2 linked regions of the Homo sapiens genome follow. The protein of the gene in region 1 binds, or shares a complex with, the protein of each later gene. Each region holds a gene or a part of one and is shown on either strand. Other genes may lie near its edges.

The links.
Region 2: the proteins of IFFO1 (region 1) and XRCC4 are in contact, whole or in part, in a crystal structure (PDB 6ABO), measured with the Homo sapiens proteins. Residues at the interface, in NP_001317253.1 of Homo sapiens: Arg469, Glu470, Tyr473, Ile477, Gln479, Ile480, Glu481, Glu483, Leu484, Ala487, Lys488, Asp490, Met491, Arg493, His494, Leu495, Tyr498, Met501, Lys505, Leu508, Asp509, Met512, Cys515, Arg516, Leu518, Ile519, Thr520, Gln521; in NP_001304941.1 of Homo sapiens: Trp155, Val158, Gln159, Phe162, Glu163, Cys165, Val166, Lys169, Glu170, Glu173, Leu176, Tyr177, Phe180, Val183, Leu184, Lys187, Lys188, Lys190, Ile191, Leu194, His195, Lys197, Leu198, Ala201, Ala202, Arg205, Glu212.

The regions. Positions count from the first base shown.
Region 1 is NC_000012.12:6,549,644-6,562,547, forward strand, and holds the start of IFFO1 (non-homologous end joining factor IFFO1), read right to left. Parts: upstream 6,400-12,904; 5' UTR 6,387-6,399; coding exon 5,614-6,386; intron 1,861-5,613; exon of another isoform or gene 1,755-1,860; intron 1,359-1,754; coding exon 1,298-1,358; intron 1,148-1,297; coding exon 1,052-1,147; intron 254-1,051; coding exon 113-253; intron 1-112. Other genes in the region: NOP2 (28S rRNA (cytosine(4447)-C(5))-methyltransferase), read right to left, coding at 7,350-7,999, 10,455-10,683, 10,804-10,926, 11,055-11,144, 11,288-11,427, 12,021-12,161, 12,241-12,328. UniProt on the Homo sapiens protein: Nuclear matrix protein involved in the immobilization of broken DNA ends and the suppression of chromosome translocation during DNA double-strand breaks (DSBs).
Region 2 is NC_000005.10:83,071,940-83,084,031, forward strand, and holds the start of XRCC4 (DNA repair protein XRCC4), read left to right. Parts: upstream 1-5,607; 5' UTR 5,608-5,676; exon of another isoform or gene 5,677-5,723; intron 5,724-12,092. Other genes in the region: TMEM167A (protein kish-A precursor), read right to left, coding at 5,382-5,384.

The sequences.
Region 1 (12,904 bases):
GCCAGGTAAGGCTCCCCAAGCAGGAGGCAGGGCCTGCGTTCCAGGCCAGCCGCCACGGAAGCATCCACCTGCCCCACCCACCCCTGAGAGCAGAGGGCAGCTCCGTCCTCACCTGGAACATCTGGATCATGTCCTCGCAGTTGCGCTGCTGAGCCACATCGCAGAGCTTGGCGGTGATGTCGATGCGGCGGCAGATGTCCATATCCACCTTCATGGCTTTCTCCTGGATCTTGGTGTCCAGCTCCGACAGGTTCTGTCCAGGGAGCCCAGGGAACAGTGAGGAGGCGCCCAGTTCTCCAGACAAGGACGAATTAGGCCTGGCAAGGTCCTCATCCTTCCCACCACATTGCACCGGTGCCTCTTCTGTGGAGTCTCCCTGAGCTGACTGCACCCCTCTTCCTGGGTAGCGGTGGCCTCCCCACAGCACTGTGTGAATATGCTGGGCATGGGGCGGCTCGGGCCACTGCTCCCTGGCCAAACGGAAGCCCTGGAGGGCATGGCCAGTGCCTGGGACATGCAGGGGGCTCACTGGAACGACTAGCGGTCCTCATCCTCCTAGAACTTACATTCCCAGAGAGAAAGAGACTCCTGGGAATTATAAGAGTGGAGAAAGGACTATAATAATCGCAACAGCTAACACTCTTCCAGCTAACACTGCATGCTGGGCACTGTCCCGAGTACATGACCACCCTCACAATACTCCTGCAGAGCGCACGCGTTTATTTCCCCACGCCAAAGGTGAGGCCTCAGAGGCTGAGGAATCGGCCCAGCGCCCCGGCGCCAGCTGCAGAGCCTCCACCCCAGAAGCTGCTCACTAACTGCTCTGCAACCCCAGGCCCTCAGAAGCTGCGCCACCTCTGTGACGCAACACCGAGACTTTTGTTGCTTGTCTTTCTCTGGAGTTAGGGGTGGCTAGGGGAAAAAGGGAAGGAAAGCAAAGAGAAGGGGAGGAGCCGTGGACGGGAGGCCAACAGGCCAACACTAGAAGGGCCTACTCTTCTGGCCTCAGAAGCCTCACTTCGACCCTCGGGAAGCCTGGGGCTGCACTCACGTTACTCATGAGCCCCTTGAAGACCACCAGCTCAGCCTTCAACTGTTCCACCTTCAGTGCCAGCTCCTCCTGGCAGGCATCAGCCTCCTGGGCTTCCTGCAGTTGGGAGAAACCCTGATGTTGGTGGCACTGCCGAGGTGGGAGGAAGATAAAGATGCCAAGGAGGGACAGGGAGACGGCAGCAGGGTCATGGGCAGACAGGGGTACCCAGGGAAGCACCAGCAGCAAGTGGGGCGCCACCCTCACCTCCTGGAGCTCATTTACACGGTCTTGCAGCTGGATCCGCACCGTGTACTCCTCTTCCCACCTGACAGACATGGGAAGGGCGGAGAGAGCTTAGGTACAGAGTCCTTCCCTGCCCCCATGGCTCCCTGTCCCCACCTCTCTGGCTCAGGCCTCAGACCCCAGTTCTGGTTCCCTGGATGGGGAGGAGCAGGGCACAGGAATGCCTGGCCAGCCAGCTGGTGACCAACTGCAGCTGTCACGCGGCTCTGTGCTTCCTGATGGGCGTCGAGCTCGCCAGCTGCCTTCCCGGAACCTCCGGGCTGTGCACCAGGAGCTCTGTTTGGGCAAGTGCTGAGGCTCCGGTCCTCCGTGATGCCCATCCCTGCTCAGGCCCCAGCTCAGCCAGCTGTCCGGCTGGCCTCATTGCCCACCTCCTGCCCACACCAGACCACCAGGTCCACCCGGCCCAGTCTCCCACCTTCAGTCGCACAGATCCGGGCTCCCGCCTCCTGCCCGCACCAGAACAGAGCTCGTCGAGCCCGCTGCCCTGCCTCTTGTGGTATCATTTAACCCTGTAAAAGCATCTGCAGGACACATAGTGTATCAACAGAGTGGGTCAAGAGCCTGGTAGGAGACACTCAAAGTCCTTCCCCACTAGCTCCAGAAACTACCCACCCAGAGCCTCCTCTAAGGGAGTCACAGAGAGGTGACCAGACTGGCTCAGAGGCCGGAAGTCCCACAGCAGCATGACAGCAGTGGACACACGAGCCTGGGGTTACTAGCACTCAAACCCAGAGGGAAAGAGAAAGTAGAGTATGTAAAGGGGCCCGGTGAGTACGGCAAATGAGAACTAGACACAGCCTGTTCCAGGGCCCAGAATTCAGAGATTAAGACTGCAAGTGGGCCGGACGACACCCTGGGCCACAGGGCAGGGTCCTAGGTAGGGCATGCTTCCCAGAGCCAGCTTTGTCATGTCTCATCAGCCATGGCAGGCAGTGCATATTCTATTCCATCACAGAGATGGAAGCCAGGGCAACGTGCTGCTTAGGACCCGCCCGGCATTCCAGGGCCCTGCAGTCTAGCTGGCGTAGCAGCACATCTCAAATCCTGTTCCTGTGAGCTCATCACTTCTGTCAACCCGAGAAGGGAGGGGAACTGCACCAAGAGAGAAACTTCAACACAAGAAAGGTGGTTAGGAAGGGGCCAAGAAGACAGCAAGAAAATTAAAATCTGAGTGGGCAGCTTCTGAAGCCTTGGGTGAAGCCCTTTCTTCCCCTTCCCTCCATCTTCCTTCCTGTGTCAGCCTCTGGGTCCCATCTCCTCATTCACAGCCGCACTGCAGTATTCCTAATAATAACTCCTCCACATCACCTCGACTGCCCCTCCCTGCTGGGCAGAGCAGGAGGAGGCAGCCAGCCCAGCCACCACCCTGCTGGCTCCCCACACAGCCCAGCTCCCAGCCTTCCTGGCTCCCAGCCCCCTTCCCTGTGTGTCCCGTAGGTGCTTCTCCCCTCCTCCCTGGCATTCTCATGCATACAGTCAGGCCACTAAGGGAACCAGTCGCATCAGATTATGTTTTCTTAGCTAAGACCCTTATCTTTTCTGGGTCTTGGTTTCTTCATCTATGATGTGAAGGCATGAACTGTGGTGCCCTCATGCGCCGGGAGCCCACGAGTCCCTGGAGGGAGACAGTAAGCCTGTCAAGGGCACGCTAACCCTGGACAAGATGTGTGAAAGAGGGCAGGAGGGGCTATCTGACAGTGAGCTCAACAGAGCCTGGAAGAAACTTAAGTAAGGCAGTTATAGCTAAAGGTTAAGCCTAAGGAAATCTTACAGGGTAAAAAAAATCTACAAATGAATCATCTGGAAGCCCACTACAGTTCTATTTGTTCTTTGGCCAGACTTCACACAGACAGGTTCATTTTCACCTCCATTTCCATCTGGTCTCACTTATAAGGTTCCCTTAACATGGGCAGAATTTGAGAGCGATATCCATGTGTTCTGCATGGACCAAATATCTCTCTTCCAAAAAACTGTATCCCTGGGTTGAAGAGAGAAAGCAGGGACCATTCCTATGTTGGGAAAATGGGGGCTCAAAAAAAGGTCACGCACAAGGCAGGGGAGCTGAAAATAGAACGCAGGAGGCCTTTAGCTACCTCCCAGTGTAGCGCTCAAGCCATCCCAGGCCTTCCAGGCAGAAGACAGGAGTTACAGTGTTGCTATAAAGAGACCAGAATGAGGGCAGGGAATCTAGGGAGGAAGAAGAGTCACTGCCAGTATCACGCACCATCCGAATCCAGCTAAGGCTCTCTACACAGCAGCGTGCTGCAGAGCGATGAGCTAATCAGTCCCCAAGGAATAACTCCTTCCTGTCCTGGACAGCTGGACCAAGGACAAACGCTCCTTCAGTTTAAAAAAAAAATGCTCCTGAGAACAGCAGTTGTTCCTGTGGTTATGGATGTATTCCAGAACTGTGCCTGTGCCACTGCTGAGCGCGTAGTTAACTCCTGCAGGGGCAGAGCAGGCTGGTTCTGGGTGGCAGAACGATGATTTCAGGACAACTGAAACTCCCAAGGACACATAACATGGACCACAACTAAGGAAGCCAGCACGAGGACAGGACTCAAGCTCAGAAAGCCTGCTGATCAGGTCAGGAGTTTGAGACTGGCCTGGACAACGCAAAAAGAAAAAAAAAAAATAGCCAGGCATGGACATGGTAGTGCACACCTGTAGTCCCAGCTACTCAAGAGGCTGAGGCAGGATGATTGCTTGAGCCCAGGAGGATGAGGCTGCAGTGAGCTGTGATGACGCTACTGCACTCCAGCCCGGATGACAGAGCAAGTCCCTGTCTCAATATTTTAAGTCAAGGGTCTGTAGTCATGTGTTCAACGCCACTTCTTGCCATCACTTTGCAATTATTGAAATGGGCATACTGAGCTCAGAAAGCAAATCTGATGCTTTCACGGGAGACAGAGCCACATTTGTGTTCTGGGTGGGATCACTAGTGCAGGAGAACACTACATCTTCTTCTGAAGGCAAAATGCTTGTAGGTTTTGCCTCTTTACTTTGCATTTACTTCTAAAATTGCACTTGTTCACCTACCAGTGTTTACGAAATCCTGTATTTGGGATGCTTTTTCTATAATAAAATATTATCATTTATGGGAAAAAAAAAAAAAGAAAGCCTGCTGATCTGTGATCTGGTAAACTCCAGCAGGGTGGAGATCCCTGAAGGTCGCCCCTAGACCCAGCGGTCATTTCCTAGAACATTCGGCCAATCCTCACCCAGTGCTGAATCTCCGCCACACTGGGCTGCATAGGTAGTTCCCAGGCCCGCCCACAAGGGGTCATAATAGCTGAGATGAGAGGGGAGGCCGCCAAACCAAAGCCTGTCAGTCACCCGCTCCCTCCTCAAGGCTTGGGTTGGAGTCTGCAAGACACTACCTCTGCTCTCACTCCTGTCCTATCGGCTTGGTTATCAGCCATCTAAGGAATCCACTTGGTATACAGCCAGCACTCCTGGCATCACATCCCTTTCCCTTGCCCCTTGGGGCCGGGCTCCTCTCAGACAGCCAAATCTTCATCCACAGAATGCACCGGGCCCGCCCCGCGGCCTCGCGGTCCTAGGGAGGGCCCATATCCCAGCTTCTCCCTGCTCAGTCCCCTGCTGGCTCTCCACTCTCCCTCCCCACTGGCGCTTTATACTGCCAAGATTCCCCTGTCAGCCCTGCTCTCCACCCTCACCCTAGTGAATTCCCTTCACTCTTTCTTTTCCCAGTTTGTTGACCTACTCAAGCAATGGCTTGAGGTCCCGGAGCTTTTCCTATGAAACCACAGCAGGTACCTGGTTTCCATCAATATTCTTTGGGAAACCTTGGGGTGTGAAAGAATCACTCGTTGCAAGGTACAGCCCCTCCCTCACCAGCCCCTTCCAGTTTCACTCAATTTAGTCTCCCAAATTTACGCTATATCCTTGCCTCCTACTTTTGAAGTTTATATCCCTAACCTGCCCCAGGGCTGAGACCGGTAGGGCAGAGCCCCAGTCCCTTTCACACCGCACAAAACCCGCAGTTAAGCCTGGATGGCAGAGACAAGCCGGAAAAGTAGGAATCCCCCCGTGTTCCGCTCCCAGCGTCCTTCTTCCTGTCACGAGCAGGGCTTCTGCATTCTCTGCGGATTCTAGTCTCCCTGCATCCAATTGCTTCCAAGCTCCTCATTACACAGCACAAACTTTACTCTCATTCTTTTCACCCCTGATTCTTCGGAACCCACACCAACTCGCGGCCCGTTGTGAGTGGTATGACACAGAGAGACCTGTCCCCCTTTCCCAATCCCTACCTCCGCTTGTACTCGTCCCGCTCCCGCTTCACTTTGGCCAGCACGTTGTAGAGAGCGCGGATCTCGGGCGTGATGGTGTCGATCTGGACGCCCACCCCATCCGGGTGCACCCACGACAAGCCAGGCCCTTGCACCAGAGTGGGCTCCAGTCCCGGCCCGAGCCGGCGGGCGTGCGAGAACGACCAGATGGTGCCGGGCATGAAGCGGGCCGACGAGGAATAGGTGGTGGAGGTGGAGGTGGAGGACGACGAGAGGCTGGCCGCGGAGGGCGCGAGGGGGCCGGCCGGGGAGCGCGCGGGCGAGCCCAGCACGCGCGCCGAAGGGCTGCAGACAGCGGCCGGCCGGGCGCCCAGCTGCAGCCCCAGGGGCCGGATGGGGCTGACGAAGCCGGTCTGCACTGCCTGGTCGCGACGACCCAGGCCCCGCCGGCCCTGCTTACCCTCCTCCAGCGCTTGCTGCAGTTGCTTCTCCAACAGCCGGTTCCGGCGCTCCAGCTCATGCACCTTGGCCAGGAAGCAGCGGAACCGGAGGTTCAGGGTCTTGAGCACGTTGATGTTGGAGCCCAGGTCATTGCGGAGGGCCATGGCGGCAGGCGGGGCCGGGCCCGGCCCGGGCGGCGAGTAGGCAGCAGGGCCGGCCGGCGAGAGAGGCGCCGGGGGCAAGTCTCCTCCCCCGGCGAAGTGGTCGCCTCCCAGTGAGTCCCCCAGTGGCCCGGCCAGGCCCTGCTGCTCCTGCTGCAGGAGGAAGAGGTTGGGGCCGAATAACGGATTCATGGCTGCGCCTTCTGCTGGGAGATGCAGACCGGTGCAGGAGCAGGGATGGAAGGCGAGCCAGAAGAGCCAATGCGGCGCCGGCGGGACAGAGCCGACCAATCAGGCGGCTCGGCAGCGGGGCAGAGGTCAGGGGGCGGGCCGAGGGGAAGCCAATGACAGGCTCCAATTGGAGGCCGGACCCTGGACCTTTCCGGGTCTGAGGCCGAGCCCTGTGATGAGGGGAGCCACCGCCTGGACTCCAGCCGGGGTGGCGTAAAGCCCAGGACCTCCAGTACCCCATGGGTTCTGGTGGCAAGCCCATCTCCCCTACACGACTTTTTTTTTTTTTGAGACCGAGTCTCACTGTCGCCCGGGCTGGAGTGCAGTGGCGCGATCTTGGCTCACTGCAACCTCAGCCTCCCAGGTTCAAGCGATTCTCCTGCTTCAGTCTCCCGAGTAGCTGGGATTACAGGCACCCGCCACCACACCCGGCTGATTTTTTGTATTTTTAGTAGAGACGAGGTTTCGCCATGTTAGCCAGGCTGGTCTCGAACACCTGACCTCAGGTGATCCACCCGCCTTGGCCTCCCAGAAAGTGCTGGGATTACAGGCATGAGCTAGTGTGCCCCGCCTTCCCCTACACTTCTATTGCCCTCCTCTCCCCGGAGTTCAATCACCCCTAGCTCTGACTCCAGGGCTTTCCCTTCCTGGGAAAACCCAAGGATGCAGGAGCCTAAAACTGACCTTATTTCTCAGTAGCACCCAACCATTCCCTCTCCTCAGAAGATCCCAGTCCCACCTCCCATCTTTACCCTTAAAGCGGCAAAGGCAGCACCCAGTTCCCTCAAAAATACTCAGTGGCCAGAGGTTTTAAAATGTGTATTAAATTTCATGGGTATGCACAGTAGAGAAGGCATCCTCACAGAGGCAAGAGTTCCAACCTGGTGACAATGGCAGTGAGCCACCCGTCTAGTTTTCAACCATCTAAGATAGCAGCAGCTGGCTGTTGCCCCTGGACTGAGATTTCTTCCTCTTTGCTGGTGGGGGGCGGCTGGAACGGATGGGAGACACAGTGGGAGGCTGAGGCCCCTTGGGGGTATCATTCTGTTTCTGGAAGGCAGCTTTCTCAAAAGGCTGCTCTGGCAACTGCTGCTTCTCAACCCCCTTGGCCCTTCCAAGGGGCTGATGATGGTCCTTAGGTTTCAGGGTGGCCTGAGTCTTGGATGGGGATAACACAGCCGGTGTTTGTGTGTCTGTGCCCTTGGGAGGGGCATTCTGCCTGAGGAAAGCAACTTTCTTGGAGGACTGTAATTTAGGTGATCGTTGCTTTAGCTTCCCAGTCACCTTTGGCTCCCTGATCCCTTCGGCTTTTCCAGCTGGCTGACTGCTATCCTGGAAGCTGGAGGAAGCTTGGGTCTTTGTGACAGAAGGTACAGTGGACAATTCTGAGTCTGCCCCTTTGGAGATGCCATTCAGCTTCTGGAAGGAGGCCTTCTTGGGATGTTGCTGTTTCTGCAGCTGCTGCTTTGTCTTTGCAGCCCCCTTGGCTTTCTTGGCTGGCTGGCTGCTGTTCTCAGACTTGGGGATGACCTGAGGCAAGTCTACATTTGTAGGTGTGGCTGTTTCAGAATTTCCTGGGGTTAAAATTAAACAGATGGTGTCAGAAAATGGGCCTTATCACCATATTTTAATATTCTCATATTAAAATATGAGAATTGCCATTTCCTGGGCAGGAGCTCCACACAATTAGGTCAGTGCCTAAGAGCAGATTACCTAAATTCCCATTACTTAATATAACTTGGCCTTTACTCAAGTCCTAGTTGAACCTTGTATTAAAAGATCACTGCCTATAGGCCAGGCGTGGTGGCTCACACCTGTAATTCCAGCACTTTGGGAGGCCAAGGCAAGTGGATTGCTTGAGGCCAGGAGTTCAAGACCAGCCTAGCCCACATGGTGAAACCATCTCTACTAAAAATACAAAAATTAGCCAGGGATGGTGGTACACACCTGTAATCCTAGCTACTTGGGAGTCTGAGGCACAAGAATCGCTTGAACCTGGAAGGTGGAGGTTGCAATGAGCTGAGATTGCACCACTGCAGTCCAGCCTGAGCGACAAAGCAAGACACCGTCTCAAAAAAAAAAAAAAAAAAAAAAAAATCACTGCCTATCCTTGGGCCAAAAGGTTTCTACAGGAAGCTGCGCCCTCTTGAGGACAGGAAGTAACAAGATGCTGTAAGGAAGAGGTGATTCTCAGGGTTTTGGGGTTTTTTTTTTCTTTTTTTGAGATGGAATCTCACTCTGTCACCCAGGCTGGAGTGCAGTGGTGTGATCTCGGCTCACTGCAACCTCTGCCTCCTGGGTTCAAGCAATTCTCCTGCCTCAGCCTCCGGACAATCACAACCGTGCGCCACCATGTCCGGCTAATTTTTGTATTTTTAGTAGAGATGAGGTTTCACCATGTTGACCAGCTGGTCTTGAACTCCTGACCTCAGGTGATCCACCTGCCTCAGCCACCCAAAGTGCTGGGGTTACAGGCGCGAGCCACCACGCCCGGCCTCGCAGGGTCTTCTAAATGAATTTGAAGCACTAGGCTTTATTTATCTTTTTTTTTTTTTTTTTGAGGTAGAGTCTCACTGTGTTGCCCAGGCTGGAGTACAGTGGTGCCATCATAGCTCACTGCAACCTCAAACTCCTGGGGCTCAAGGGATCCTCCTACCTCAGCCTCCAGAGTAGCTGGAACTACTGTCTCCCTTTGTTGCCCAGACAGGTCTCAAACTCGTGGTCTTAAGCAATCTTCCCACCTCAGCCTCCCAAAGTACTGGGATTTATAGGCATGAGCCATCACCACACCTGGCCTATTTATTTTTTAAATCAGAGAAGTTTCTTTCCATGTGAATTGTGATGAAGTGCGGGATAATTAAAATATGTACTTTTTAAGTTATAGCAAATTTTACTATTCCTTTTTTTTGAGATGGAGTTTTGCTCGTTGCCCAGGCTGAAATGCAATAGCGTGATCTCGGCTTACTGCAACCTCCACCTCCCAGGTTCAAGTGATTCTCCTGCCTCAGCCTCCTGAGTAGTTGGGACTACAGGCACGTACCACCACACCTAGCTAATTTTTTTTTTTGGAGACGGAGTCTCACTCTGTCGCCCAGGCTGGAGTGCAGTGGCACAATCTCAGCTCACTGCAAGCTCCGCCTCCCGGGTTCATGCCATTCTCCTGCCTCAGCCTCCCGAGTAGCTGGGACTACAGGCGCCCACCACCAAGCTCAGCTAATTTTTTATATTTTTAGTAGAGATGGGGGTTTCACTGTGTTAGCCAGGATGGTCTCGATCTCCTGACCTCGTGATCCACCCGTCTTGGCCTCCCAAAGTGCTGGGATTACAGGCGTGAGCCACCGTGCCTGGCCACACCCAGCTAATTCTTATATTTTTAGTAGAGACAGGGTTTCACCGTGTCGAATTCCTGACCTCAGGTGAGTGCTGGGATTACAGGCATGAGCCACCACGCCCAGACAAATTCTACTATTTCTAAAGTAGCACTTCTCTCCCTCTTCCAACTAAACCCAGGGTTATATCCCAGTAAGCAGTGCTCTCAAGGCTGTTTCAGAAAACCCCACCCTTCCCTTGAGATCCAGGCCAGACTCCTCAAGATGGCTGAGAAAACAATCTGCAATGAGTGTGAAGGGCTCAGAGAACTGCTGACAAAGCTCTGTGGAGCTCTGTTCCAACCCAGTGCTGAGATTGCTGGACCAGCAGAGGTCCAGTACCAGTAAGTCCACCCTGTGCCAAGAAGGAAAAGAAACCACAACCTGCATTTGGAATGCATTTAGTGCTGAACAACTGCAGCCACTTGGCAGAATAAAGGAACAGGCCTCCATCCATATGAACACTTTAGCCTGTTCACATGGGGTCCAGCACTCAAAAGCAATTCTAGCTGGAATGAGAGGGTTCTCTCAGCCAAGCATGCAAAGGCTGGAGTAAGGGATGCATGAATCTTTCCTTTCCCTTCCTCTTGTCACACCATAAAGCCTCCTGAAAGGTGGAAAGAGCAAAGGTGGTGACGAAGGGAAGAAAAAGATTACTTACCTGTCTGGGACTGAGGGATAGAATTGGAAAATTTCTTGAACTTGGCAATGAAGAACCCATCCATATTGTGGGTATGAGGGTAGAAGCGTCGGGTAGAACGCAGACTGGGGTGGAAGCGCCTTTCTCGAAAGCGGGTAAAACCTTCCTGGCCAAAGTCTAGGCCCGTGGGCACCAGTCGCACATTCCTCTTTTTCAGAGCATAGTCTACCACCCACTCATTCTCTTCTACCTGGATGTGGGGGGAAGACAAAGAACGGAGGAAAAAGCAGAGCTGGAGCTGAAGGGAGCTCTAAGGGGCAAAGAGCCCCCCAGCCCAGCCTCCCCTGCTCTGCCATGGCAGAGGTCTCACTGTGATAGAACAGGTGCAGTAAACCAGGTAGCCTCCTGTCTTGGAGGTCGCATTGACAGAGTCAATAGCACTCAGGAGCAACTCCTTCTGGAGGTGAGCACAGCGCAGGATGTCCTTCTCATCCTGTCCCAAAAAGAGACCCAAAGGCAGCCTCAGGAGGAGAGGGGAGCCCAGAGGGTGTCCCCATCTCAGTTTCCAGCTCTACGAGACCCAGCCAAGGCCTCTCAGGGGCCCACCACCTGACTCCTCACCTTGTTAGTCTTCACGGCTGGATCCTTGGAGATGACCCCAGTGCCACTGCAGGGAGCATCCAGCAGTACTCGGTCAAAGCCCCCCACCACCTGGAGAAAAGATACAGATGAATCATATGTCTCTTCTGCAACCAGCAGGGCAATATTTACTAGGGTCGAGTCTAAACATTGAGGTCAGGAAGGGAGAAGGTCAACCGGAAGAAGCCTCAGAAGACACACAGCTCGAGTCTCACCTTGGGGAACTGGCGCCCATCATAGTGGCTGATAATGGTGTTGGTGACTCCCAGCCGATGCAAGTTGCCCACAACACTCTTGAGCCGCTCAGCATTGGCGTCATTGGCAAGGATCACACCCGTGTTCTTCATCAGCTGGGCTAAAGAGAGGGCAGTAACAGTGCTGATCAGCCAGTTCCACTGTCTCCACACTTGCTCCCACCCTCCTGTCCAGGAATCCACATGAGAAGTGTCATCACCTCAAGGCAACTTCGCTCCCAACAAGCCTGCCTACTGTATAGGCTGATCCACTCTGCACTAGCCCCTGGTGATCGGCAAGTCTACCGATGTGGTTTTCCCATTTTTACCAAACACCTATGTGGTCCTACATACTAAATTACTTCTTTTAAGTGACAGCAGCTTAATAAAAGTTATGGCTGCTGACTATGTGCTGAACACTGCCAAGGACTTCTAAACGCATCATTTTAACCCTCACAATCCAAGCGTAATACAAGGGCCAACCCAAGCACAATTACCATCCCATTTTATGGATGACAAAAGAGAATCCATAGTCAGATGGGTAGTAAGTGGCACACTGGAACCCAGGCCGACTCCAGAAACTGGTCCTCACCACCCTGCTAGCTACCTGCACATTGTGTTCCATGAGCACTAGTGAGTCAGCAACCCCAGCAACCCCATCTACTTTCAAAAGCAAGACAGCCCGATGAATCCCACCTGCCTGCCCCTCTCATACCCATGTAGCTGGTCTTTCCTCCAGGGGCACAACACATGTCCAGGATCCGCTCATGTTCCTGGGGTGCCAAGGCCATGACGGGCAACATGCTGGAGGCTCCCTGCAGCATGTAGTGCCCAGCCAGGTACTCGGGGGTAGCACCTGTGGAGAAGGACCACCCTGTGACATGCGGTAGGGACAGGGACAGAGGTAGAAGGGCTCTTGGGTGGGGGAGACTTACCAATGGGCACAGAAGAATCATACACCACTAGTCCAGTCTTTGACCACTTGCCCAGGGGATCCAGGTTAACCCCACGATTGATTAGAGCCTGAAAAGGGATGAAGATTTTTTTTTTTTTTTTTTGAGATGGAGTCTCACTCTGTTGCCCAGGCTAGAGTGAGGTGGCGCAATCTCGGCTCACAGCAACCTCCACCTCCCAGATTCAAGCGATTCTCTCGTGCCTCAGCCTCCTGAGTAGCTGGGACAACGGGCATGTACCACCATGCCTGGCTAATTTTTGTATTTTTCATAGGATGGGGTTTCACCATGTTGGCCAGGCTGGTCTCTAACTCCTGACCTCAGGTGATCTGCCCGCCTCGGCCTCCCAAAGTGCTGGGATTACAGGCGTTGAGTCACCGCGCCCGGTAGGGATGAAGATTTTAATAACCTCATAGGCTACTCTACCCAGAAGACAGATGAAGACATTAAACACATGCTTCATAAAAACATGGCCCATACCCCACAACTCCTATAGTGCTTACTCCAAACACAGTCATCATGGAGTCATTGAGCAGTTTCTCTCTCCCACTCCATCCTATGGTGCCCTTTTTTCTTAACCTCAGGCTCCTAACTCAAGATCTGAACTTCATCCCAATGGAGCAGGATGCCACCTCCTGTTACTTTA
Region 2 (12,092 bases), on another chromosome or scaffold:
TGGGGGCTGGATTAAACAACCATTTGTTCTCACCAGTCATATTTTAAAAATGTACAGAGACATTTTCTACTTAATACTTTCCATTTAACAACTTTCATGGATATGATGAGTAAAACTACAGTACAGAGTAGAAGCGCTTGAACTCTGTTTTCCACTGGCAACACTGATTTTGTAGTTATTTTCATCTCATTATCATGGTACCTACAATTAATTTGCTGTTTGTGCTGCTTTGTTTTGGAGCTATTTTATATAAACCTCAGATCTAAAGATAAGGCAAAAGGGTGTCAAGAGTTAGAGAAGGCATACGCAAAACAATGATAAATGGTAGAGTGAAAAAAAATTAGAATAAATGCTCCATATATGTCTTTGATAAAAAGGTTGGACAAGAGACAGTATTCTGAAGGAAAAGAGCAAAGCCTGCTGTAAAGTCCTCTGACCTTGCAATCAAGAAAAAAACAAAAACTGATAAAATGTCCTATCATATGGTATGAAATCTAACTGCTTATTAGAACCACTTGGAGCTTAAAAAGCCATCATTGCCCAGAAATTTGGATTTAACTGGTCTGGGCACCTACAGTTTCTTAAAATTCCCTGAAAGCTTTTTTTTGAGATGGAGTCTCACTCTGTTGCCCAGACTGGAGTGCAGTGGCATGATCTCGGCTCATTGCAACCTCCACCCCTTGGGTTCAAGCAATTATCCTGCCTCAGCCTCCCGAGCAGCTGGGACTACAGGTGCACGCCACCAAGCCCGGCTAGTTTTTTTTGTATTTTTAGTAGAAATGGGGTTTCACCATGTTGGTCAGGCTAGTCTCGAATGCCTGCCTCAGCCTCCTGGAAGTTTTTCTTTGCAATCAGTATTCAAAAGCTTTGCTAGAGAAGATCAGCACCCACATCAGATTCCTATTAGCCTAATGAAGTGGTTATCAAAGGTGTGGTTCATGGAACCCTTTCATGGGTTCATAAGATCAGAACTATTTTTATAATACTAAGATACTTGCCTTTTAACTGTGATGCCATTTTCATGGATGATGCAAAAGCAATATTAGCAACAGAATTATCTGAACTGCTACCTCCTCACCCACTCCTGACATAAAAAATTTGCTTTTCTTAATATTTTTGTGCAATTAATGGTATTGTTGCATAGTTGAAAGGGCACAGCATTTCGTGACAAATTGGTTCCGTTTAAATCTTAGCTCTGCTATTTATAAGCAGTGTGATGTTGGGCAAGACACTTGGCTCTCCGCATCTGTTTCTTCATATGAAAAATGTGGCCAATAATACGACTTTAATAAAACCTTGTATGTAAAATAAAACACCTGTCAGAGTAGGTGCTTAACGAAAACAGTAAGCCCTCACTTAACGTCATCCACAGGTCCTTGGAAAATGCAACTTTAAGCCAAAAGATATATAACAAAAAAAATTTACCATAGGCGAATTGATATAAACAAGAGTTAAGTTCCGATGGCATATTTCTAGTCACAAAAGCATCACCAAACTTCCAAATCAATATCAAAACCCTTCTAATATTCAACACTGAAGTAAATGTGAGTTATACATCCACTTAAGAAAGATTAATAAAAACAAGTAAGATAGCTGGCTATTTGCTATTTCAGTTCAGTGTTGACGGTGCCGGGAGCCATCCCAGTAGCCTGGAGTATAGGACATCATTCCAGTGCAGAGCACTCAAACTGGGAGAGTGTAGACACCTCAACAAACCCATTGTATATATCTCTGGGATGTAGAAGGGAACTGGAGTACCAAGAGAAAATCCATGCAGACATGGGAAGAACAGACATGAAGACAACGTGCAATTGGGAATGGAGTTTCTTCCTCATACACGTTATTGAGGATCTGCTGTATTTCTTTCCCATCCAATAAATCATCCAAGCTGGAGCTGTGCTTCATCACCCTTCATTAAGTATCTTCAAAACGATTTTCCTAGTTTTCCTTTCCTTTCAACCCAACTGCTCATCAGAGTTGAGACATTCAATCATTGTATACCTGAACTACAGCACTTGTTTTCAAGCTGGTCTCCCAGATTCTAATCTTCCTCCATTTAAATATACTCTATGTTGTTACCAGTTGGTTTTCTAAAATGCACACCTTTTATTTCCCTGCTCCAAAGCCTTTATCAAGTAAGCAATTAAACATCATCAAAATATAAAGTCTTTGGCATGGCACAAAGCTCTTCAAAATCTGGCCCCAATCTTTCTAGCCTCATCTATCACCAGTCCACTATACTTGACTTCTTTTTATTCCTGCCACATTAAGGCTCCATGCAACTATTGAACTTCATGCCTTTTGTTCCCATAACTGCCATTTCCTTTATCTACGGGATAGAGATTGCTGTCCCACCTCTAGCTAATGACTCCTTCCCTAATACTCTTTAAAGTACAGGTGAGAGAGAATTACTTCTTTCTTGGGGACATCTCTCAAGCAGTTCCCAGCCAGTACTACTCCTTCCACTGTGTTTAATGATTTTCTACATATCTTCTGCTATAAGAGGAGAGAAAATACTTCACATCTATTCTCTGGAGACTCAGTTTAATTATGAAATGTGGGCAATCATTCCTGCTTTGCAGAGTTTGTGAAAATCATTTAGTGCACCAAGAAAAAGACATGAAAATAAACTCCCTTAGAGTTAACCAAGTAAAGGTTCGGAACTGGAAATGATTCTAACTCTGTTTGGCTCAGTCTAAACCCATGCTCTCTCTACTACATGTGTTGTCTTGCTACAACATAGCAGACAACAGATGGAATTTACTTATTTAATAATTTCCCCCACTGGACTGTGAAATCCTTGAAGACACTGAGCATGTTTGTATCCCCAGACTCTTTTTTTTTTTTTGAGATGGAGTTTCGCTCTTGTTGTCCAGGCTGGAGTGCAATGGCACAATCTCGACACACCGCAACCTCCACCTCCTGGGTTCAAGTGATTCTCCTGCCTCAGCCTCCCAAGTAGCTGGGATTACAGGCATGTGCCACCACGCCCGGCTAATTTTTTATTTTTAGTAGAGATGGGGTTTCTCCACACTGGTCAGGCTGGTCTCCAACTCCCGACCTCAGTTGATCTACCCACCTTGGCCTCCCAAAGTGCTGAGATTACAGGCCCAGACTCTTAATGGAGTAATAACTCCAGCTGGCACTGTGACTGTAGAGATTAAAATACCTAGTCTTTAAGAATTCTGCCTAGAGAGGGAGAAATGCAGGCAACACCTTATTGCTGTTTTCTGTGAAAAGGGTTATGCTAGAGGGATACTGGAAGTATACATATGAACTAGGAATATCCCTATAGATACCTAAAGAGAGTAGAAGAAAATAGAAGGGGTTAAGGGAGGCTTTTTGGAAAGAGATGAGACATGAGAGAAATGTTGAAGGATGTTAGGTGTTGGGGGGAACAAGGCATTCTGAAATTCTTTAAAAGTATTAATTCACAAGTGCTACAATTACTGTTCATGCTGACAGTTGTAAATTATTACTGCTGATAAACATTTTATCCTTGAAATGCTTTTTAAAAAGATTCTTGGCTGGGGACGGTGGCTCACGCCTGTAATCCCAGCACTTTGGGAGGCTGAGGTGGGAGGATCACGAGGTCAAGAGATCGAGACCATCTTGGCCAACATGGTGAAACCTCGTCTCTACTAAAAATACAAAAATTAGCCAGGCGTGGTTGTGCACGCCTGTAGTCCCAGCTACTCGGGAGGCTGAGGCAGGAGAATTGCTTGAACCCAGGAAGCAGAGGTTGCAGTGAGCTGAGATTATGCCACTGCACTCCAGCCTGGGCAACAGAGGGAGACTCCATCTCAAAAAAAAAAAAAATCATTAAAATACAGTAATTCAGGTTTATTAAGTCATTACCATTGGGTTACCTCACAAATAAACTAAGTTTAGATGCGAACTCAAAGATACTGAGACACTAATCCATTTCTTAAGCTGCTAAGTTAGCCTTCTTGAAACCTCACTTCGTAGCTCTGCAAACAATGTACTTTTGACATCCCAAGCTCACAGGAATAAAAAACCACCTGCCAGTTGTTTCCGTTTTCCACCTATGTCTAATTTATGTACTTATATTTATAAGAAACAAATCACTAAGTCTTATTTCATCCTTAGTTATGTTGTGTTTCTATCGATAACAGCATGAAGATTTCGGGGACCTGGACATTAAAATAAGTTTGAGTACTGGCTTTACAATCTACTAGGTGTGATCCGAGGCAAGTCAGTCTCTTCATGTTTCACTTCTTTCACTTGTAAACATCTATTCAGAAGTTGCTGTGAACTTGATATTTCCATGCTTATAAACTGATTTTTTGAAAAGAGCCTGGTACATAGGACGTGATAATAAATGAAAGCATTTGCTACTTTTGGAAAAACAAGCATGACAAGATAGTTTATATACTGTTGATCTTAAGCACAGTATATGCATCTTATTTTTAGCTAGTCTGACAGTGAGATAATAAAAAGAGTTATCTTTGACTTGCACTACGAGTAGAAGAATTCAACTTCAGTTTCTAGAAAGATGTATAAGAATTAAGAGTGGCAGTCTTCCTAGTCTCAACTGCCATCTTCCCACCAGGTGGTAAATTCGTCCAGAGAAGAAAATGAATTATTGCTATATGGGATTCTGCAGCAACTTCTGTGAACATAGGCTCATAATTTTTCACCATGGAGACTCAAGCTTTTTGGAGTCATAGTTGTTTTTGGGTCTATTTGCAGGCATGCATCCTTTGTCCAGAAATATACATAACATTTGGCACATGGACCTGGAGGTAAAAGAGGAGGAAGGCCTGAGGCTAGACACCACTCCAATAAGTACATTAAGCTCCTAGAAGGGCAATCCACCTTTGCAGAGAACTCTTAACTATTAAAACCTATAGCTTGTAAAGCAGCATTTTCAAAGTTAAGAGAAGAAGGTGGAAGGGTCTTGAGAGGCTACTGACTAAACAGATGAAAATGAAGGTATGGAGTTTGGTGCCAAAAGAAACTCCCCCCAAAAATCAAACAATAACACCAGAGTAAAGCCCCTAGGGCGAGATAAGGAGTTGCAACAAAACAAGCGGAAACTCGAGAAGCGCTAATGCTTCAAAGGGTCAATGACCACACATAATCTACGTAGCCAACGTGTTAAAACACACCAACGCATTTTTTTTTCCTAAACAAAGTAGGAAAGCGGACTTTGCATGAGGGGCGGGCTGCCGACCCAGCAGTCTTCCTCGGACAGTCCGTCCTGATTCTCTCTGGTTGGCCGTGGAGGGACCACATGGCTCCAAGGCCTCTCAGCTCCGGGCCCACACACCCCGGGCTGCCGCACAAACTCCAGCCCTAGTCTAGATCCACAACCCCTTCTCGAAGATCAACCGCGACCTGGGAGCCCCACTTCTTACCATAGCGAGGCCGGCGATGCCGCAGCCACATCACCCTTCCGGGGCTCAGGCGGAAGAGGCTGCATGTCCCGTCTGCCCTTCTCGCCCTCTCCAGCCGTCCGGTTGGGCTTGTCACGGCACCGCCTACCAAGACGGGCGGTTAAGACACTAGGATAGGCTCCTCTCCACCGGAAAAGGCGGGATTTAGATCACGTCCCGCAGGCCGGCGGAAGTAGCTGATACTCTCATTGGTTGCAAAACCTTGATCTGTGAAAGCGGGCGTTTTGGAAGATACCGGAAGTAGAGTCACGGAGAGGTAGGATCCGGAAGTGGGGCTGCCTCTTTAAATAACAAAAATCTGAGGTTCTGTTCTTTTTATCTTTTTGCTTTCTTTTTAAAAAAGTTCCCTGCTACTTACCCCTAGAACTCCACAATGCGAGAATCCCCCTCAATTTGTGAGCTCCCGCGACTTCCTCTTGTGGGCTTTTGGGGATGCTAGGGTTCTCGGCATTATCCTCAGGGTGCGACCTGTTCACCCCCTTTTCAGTTTCTCCGTTTGCATCTGAGGGATTCTTGGGAATGCGAAGCACTTTTGAAATGCTCTGTGTTGGTTGTGGGATTGGGAGGACGGTTGAATCCAGAGGGTAGTGTTGAGTAGGCTGTTTGAGCATTTCCCCAGCACTGGCCTGTCCTTTCAATCCCCAGATATTGGTAAACTGTGGGTTCCAACCAGGCATCGAGGCTGAAACGTACTAGGCAATTTGAGGTCAGGAAAGAACTTTCTGTGGTAACCAATGGGAAGGAACTGCCGTTTGCGGACTGCAGCGATTGATTAGGTACTTTAAAGAGATCAACTGGCAAGACAAATGACAAGGCAACTTTTAATCAGTAGTAGTATTTAGCTTTTTCTGATTTTAATTATCCCATTAGGTGAGGTTCTACTACACACACACGTTTTTCTTTCTGCATTTTATCGATGGAGAAACAGGCGCTTTGACATGTTTGAATTTGCGTAGTTCTTGGAATTCTAATAAAGTATTAGAAATGAGAGTTTTTCACTCTTTGCCCCCTTATGGCAAGCTTTTGGTTCTAAATGTGTGGTGTATTTTTTCTCAGGCAGGAGAGAGTTCTTTTCAGAATGTTTTCAATTTTTTATGGACTTAGAAGGTGGATAGAGAGAAAGAGAGAAGGTAACTCACGTGAGATTTTGGTTTATGAACTGTATTCGGCCTATGAGACCCTTTTGTATTTAGGGCAACACAATGATTAGAAGATTTGGGATTCTGCTATTTGTGTTTACATTGTTCACTAGGGCACACAAAGGTTTTGTTTTAAACTATAACTAACTTGATATTTGAGTCTGTTATATTGAATTGTCAAGAGTTGGTCAAATACACAAATTAGCAAGTATTTACTGGGTGCCTGCTTTATTCATGGATCTTCAGATTGCAGCATAGGAACAAAGATGGTCTGTTCCTTTAAGGAATTTAATAAGGTTGGGGGAGAGGGGAATAAGAAAGGTATTTAAAAGATACAGTACTCTCCACCTAAGGATAAAAAAAGTCTTTTAATGTTCTGTCTTGTAATTCCTTTATATTATACCTTTTAGGTCTTGCCATTCAAATTAAACAAACCTGGTTTAGTTATGGAAATTATGTTGTGCAATTTATCGAGCTTGGCTTTTAGGGCAGTAAATGTGTCTGTAGACATAACTGCCCTTGGTTTCATGTGAAGATTGTCTTGATCTTTGTTACATATAAAGGTAATACTTCTGTATGAAGCTCTGCTTCAGGCTACCTGTGAAAAGCATCAGAAAGCTTAACTTGTTAGAGATCACAATTGATTTGCTATATCTATATATTTTAATTAATTTTAGGCTATGACTTCTTATGTACCTGAGCTTCAAAACAGTAAAGAACGGCATTGCCAGTTTTTAAGTTATCTATAGAGAAACACATATGCCAATAAATGAGGCTGAACAAATATGTATAATGTTTATTGCATTTATGTAAAACATCAAAGTTAATCTGACGTGGTGAGTTTTTTTTGGGAGGTGGTAGTTTAGCTCCATTGTCTTACATAAACCCCCTACTTTTTGGTTTTCAGATTATATCACAATTTCTAAAATCTTTCTGGCAGCTTTGCAGTGAATCCTCATTTAAAACCATCTTGGATCCTTTCCTTACTAGAAATAAAATCTGTCTGTGTTATTCCTTTGTTCAAAAATTATTATTTATTTTTATTTTTGAGACAGGATCTTGCTCTGTTGCCCAGGGTGGAGTGCAGTGGCACAATCATGACTCACTGCAGCCTCAACCTCCAGGGCAGAAGCGATCTATCCTCCTCCCTCAGTATCCCCAGTAACCGGGACCATGGTTGCATGCCACCATACTTGGCTAATTTTATTTTATTTTTTGTAGAGACAGGGCTCACTATGTTGCCTAGGCTGGTCTCAAACTCCTGGGCTCAAGTGATCCTCCCGCCTCGGCCTCCCAAAGTGCTGGGATTACAGGTGTAGGCCACCGCACCACGTCTGGCCTGTTCAAAAAGTATTATCTCACCTGCATCTGGAAGAATATTTCCAACTTTGGTTTCATGGGTATATTAAAATCGTATGTAAAAATAGTGGATATTTGTAGTTTTCTGTGGCGCCAGTGCACAGGTGTCCTCAGTGTTATGAGGATTACATGAGTTATTACAAGTAAATCATCTAGGCAAATGTTTGGCATACAGTAAGCACTCAGAAAGTGTTGGCTATTACTGTGCATGGCTTTGTCTTTGCTAAATTAAAAGTCCCTGGAGAGGAGGAATTATAATGGAGGAATGGTTGAATTGCATATATTAGGCACTAAATACAGTAGTCCCTCCTTATCTGAGGTTTTGATTTCTGCAGTTTCAGTTACCCATGATCAACCACAGTCTGAAAATATTAAGTAGAAAATTCCAGCCGGGTGCGGTGGCTCATGCCTGTAATTCCAGCACTTTGGGAGACCAAGGCGGGCAGATCACTTGAGGTCAGGAGTTTGAGACCAGCCTGGCCAACATGGTGAAACCCCATCTCTACTAATATACAAAAATTAGCCAGGCGTGGTGGCATGTGCCTGTAGTCCCAGCTAGTCAGGAGGCTGAGGCAGGAGAATCAATTGAACCCGGGAGGTGGAGGCTGCAGTGAGCCGAGATTGTGCCACTGTACTCCTGCGTGGGCAACAGAGCGAGACTCCATCTCAAAAAAAAAAAAAAAAATTCCAGAAATAATGCATACATTTTAAATAGCATGCCTTTCTGAGTTGTGATGAAATCTTATTCCATCCTATCCCATTCAGCCCGGGGCCATGAATCATCTCCTTGTTTAGCGTATCCCTGCTGTATAAGCTTCCTGCCTTTTAGTTGCTTGGTTATCAGATTGATGGAGGTGGTATCACAGTGCGTGTGTTCTAGGAATACTTATTTTACTTAATTATTGCTTCAAAGCACAAGAGTAACGACGCTGGCAATTTGGTTATGCCAAAGAGTAGCTGTAAAGTGCCTCTTTTAAGCAAAAAAAGGAAAGTTCTCCACTTAATAAGGAAGAAAAGAAATCCTATGTTGATGTTGTTAAGAACTATGGTAAGAACAAATCTATCTGTAAAATTGTGAATAAGCAAAAAGAAATTTATGCTAGTTTTACTGTCACACCTCAAACTGCCAAACTTATAGCCATAGTGCATTATAAAAGCTTAGTTAAGATAAAAAAGGAATTAAATTTGTGGTTAGAAAATGTGAACAGAAGCATGCTCAGATTGAAGGCAGTTGGATTCAGCCTCCTCACGGGGCCTTGGGATATACACCCTTGGATAAGGAGAGGACTGCTATAAAAGGTTTTAGTATTAAGTTGGTATTGCATTTGTATCACCAGACCACTTTCTCCCCATTTTCTCTTTTTACTTTGTTGCTAGTGTTAATGATAGGGTTGATTTACATTACCTTTTACATTACCTACCTTTTTTCATTCACTGTTATTCACATATATTGAAAGACAATTGTTCTGCTTTTTTCCTCTTATCCTCAGCTAGCCTCCCTAACCTCAGGTAGAGGTTTTTCATGTTCCAGTGTTTGTCCTTTTTTTCTCCCCCCTTGTTTTTATTCCCTTCCCACATGGCTTTTCAATTCAGACTGAAATGTACTTGAGGACCAAAGTTAATACAGTTTTATTCTGTTAGGGATTTTTGTTAAATAAGTAGAGTTTCAGCTGCCCTTGTCACACACAAAAAATAAGATAGATGATAGGTGTTAATCTCCTTGACTAAAATAACCATTTTACTATCTGTGTGTATCCTATAATGTCAACTTGTAAACCTCAAATATACACATTAACATTTTTTAAAAAAAGAAGTTTCACCAAAAAAGACACTTCTATTTAATGTATGTCTTATTTCTTTTACCTTAAGAAATGTTTCTCTTAACCTTTCTCCATTTTCAACCCCATTTGTTTGCTCTTCTCTGCAACAAAAATCCTCTAAAGAGTTTTCTATGCTCCATGTTCCAATTCCTCTTTTTCTACCTCTGCATCTTCATTGGTATATTTAAAAGATATCTTGAACTCAGATGTCCCAGACCGAACTCCTTTCCTCCCAAACCTTTCCCATTCTTTCTCATCTGAATTGATGGCAACTTTATACAGCCAGTTGCTCAGTTAAATCTTTGGAGTCATCCTTGACTCCTTCCTTTCTCTTGTATTCCAACAAATCTGTTGGCTTTTTCTATGAAATATATCTAGAATTCAACAGTTTTCTACTATTTCTGCTATTAGTATACTGATCATCTCTTGCTCAGATTTTTGTTATTACCCACTATCATTTCTTGCCTGGATTATAGTAATTGTGTTCTGTTCTCTCTGCTTTTTTCAGTCCTTGCCTCCCTACAGTCTATTCTCATATGTCAGCCAGAGTGATACTTTTAAAATATAAATAAAAAATTGTGTATTTACATGTAAGATTCTAAATGCAATATGTTATGCTAGATTGGATCCTGAAACAGAAAGAGGTTATTAATGGAAAAACTGGTGAAATCCAAATAAAGTCTATGGTTTAGTTGATAGAAATGTATCAGTGTTGGTTTCCTGGTTTTGATAAATGCACCGTGGTAGTATAAGATGTTAATATTAGAAGAAATTGGGTGAGGGGTATATGAGAACTTTCTATTATCTTTGTAACCCTTCTGTAAATTCAGAATTATTTCAAAATAATATACAGAAGAATAAAACATTACTTTTTTGCTTAAAAACCTTTCGTGAATCATTTGATTCATAGTAGAAGCTAACAGCCTTACGTTGGCCTACAATAGTCTACATCAGTCTTGTCCAACTTACAGCTCACAGGCTGCCTGTGGCCTATGATGGCTTTGAATGCGGCCCACCACAAATTTGTAAACTTTCTTAAAACATTATGAGATTTTTTTTTTTTTGAGCCCTTTAGGTATCATTAGTGTTAGTGTATTTTATGTGTGGCCCAAGACAATTCTTCCTCCAGTGTGGCCTAAGGAAGTCAAAAGATTGGACACCTCTGCTCTACATGATCTGGTCTCCCATTACCTCTCTGACTACATGTCTTTGTATTCTCTCTCCCTTTGTTCCAGCCATACTTACCACCCTGTTTCTTAAGTACACTAGGCCTACTTCTACCACAGGGCCTTTGCACTGACTGCTGCTTCTTTCTAGAATGCTTTTGGATCCATACAGCTATTCCTTCATAGCTTTTACATGTTGTTCAAATGTCACCTTTGCAGTAAAGCATATCCCAACCTCCCTATTTAAATTGAAGCTTTGCAACTTCCATAGCCCCTACCCCTATCTCCTCCACCCTGTTTTATCTCCTCTTTTTACTTCAGCGCTTATCATTATTCTATATATGTATTACATATTTGTTACATGTATTTTTAATTGTGTTCCCCTATTAAAATGTAAAATCCATGAAGGCAGGCATTTTTATCTGTTTTGTTGTCTTATGCCACATTCTAAAGCATTTGTCTGAGGCATAGAAGTACTCAGTAGGTTTTGTTTGAATGAATGACTGACTTGATTGGGTGTTTGAATCTGTAATTTTTTTTTTTTTTTTTTTGAGATGGAGTCTTGCTCCGTTTCCCAGGCTGGAGTGCAGTGGCACAATCTCTACTCACTACAACCTCTGCCTCCTGGGTTCCAGCAATTCTCTCTTCTCAGCCTCCTGAGTAGCTGGGATTACAGGTGCATGCCACCATGCCCAGCAAATTTTTTGTATTTTTAGTACAGACGGGGTTTCACCATGTTGGCCAGACTGGTCTCGAACTCCTGACCTCGTGATCCACCCGCCTCAGCCTCCCAAAGTGCTGGGATTACAGGCATGAAGGTGCTGGGATTACAGGCATGAGCCACCGCATTTGACCATGAACCTGTAATTTTTGATTTGCAGTCTGAAACACTGAATTATTTATCACTTCCATGTATCATGCTATTTCTTGCCTCCAAGTTTTTACTCATGCAGACTCTTCTATTTGGAATGCCCTTCCTTATCTTTCTTCCTCTACCCCTAAGTTGTTTTCACCTGACCATTTCTCTTTAAAGATTCGTATAATATTAGATGTAACTCAAGGAAGCCTTCCCTAAAATGTCAGGCCAGGGTAAGTGCTGCTTTTCAGAGGAGCTCCCTTCCTACCTCTGCATTTTACAAACTTATATTATAATTCTGTTTGGGTGTCTCTATTTCAGTAGAGAGTTGC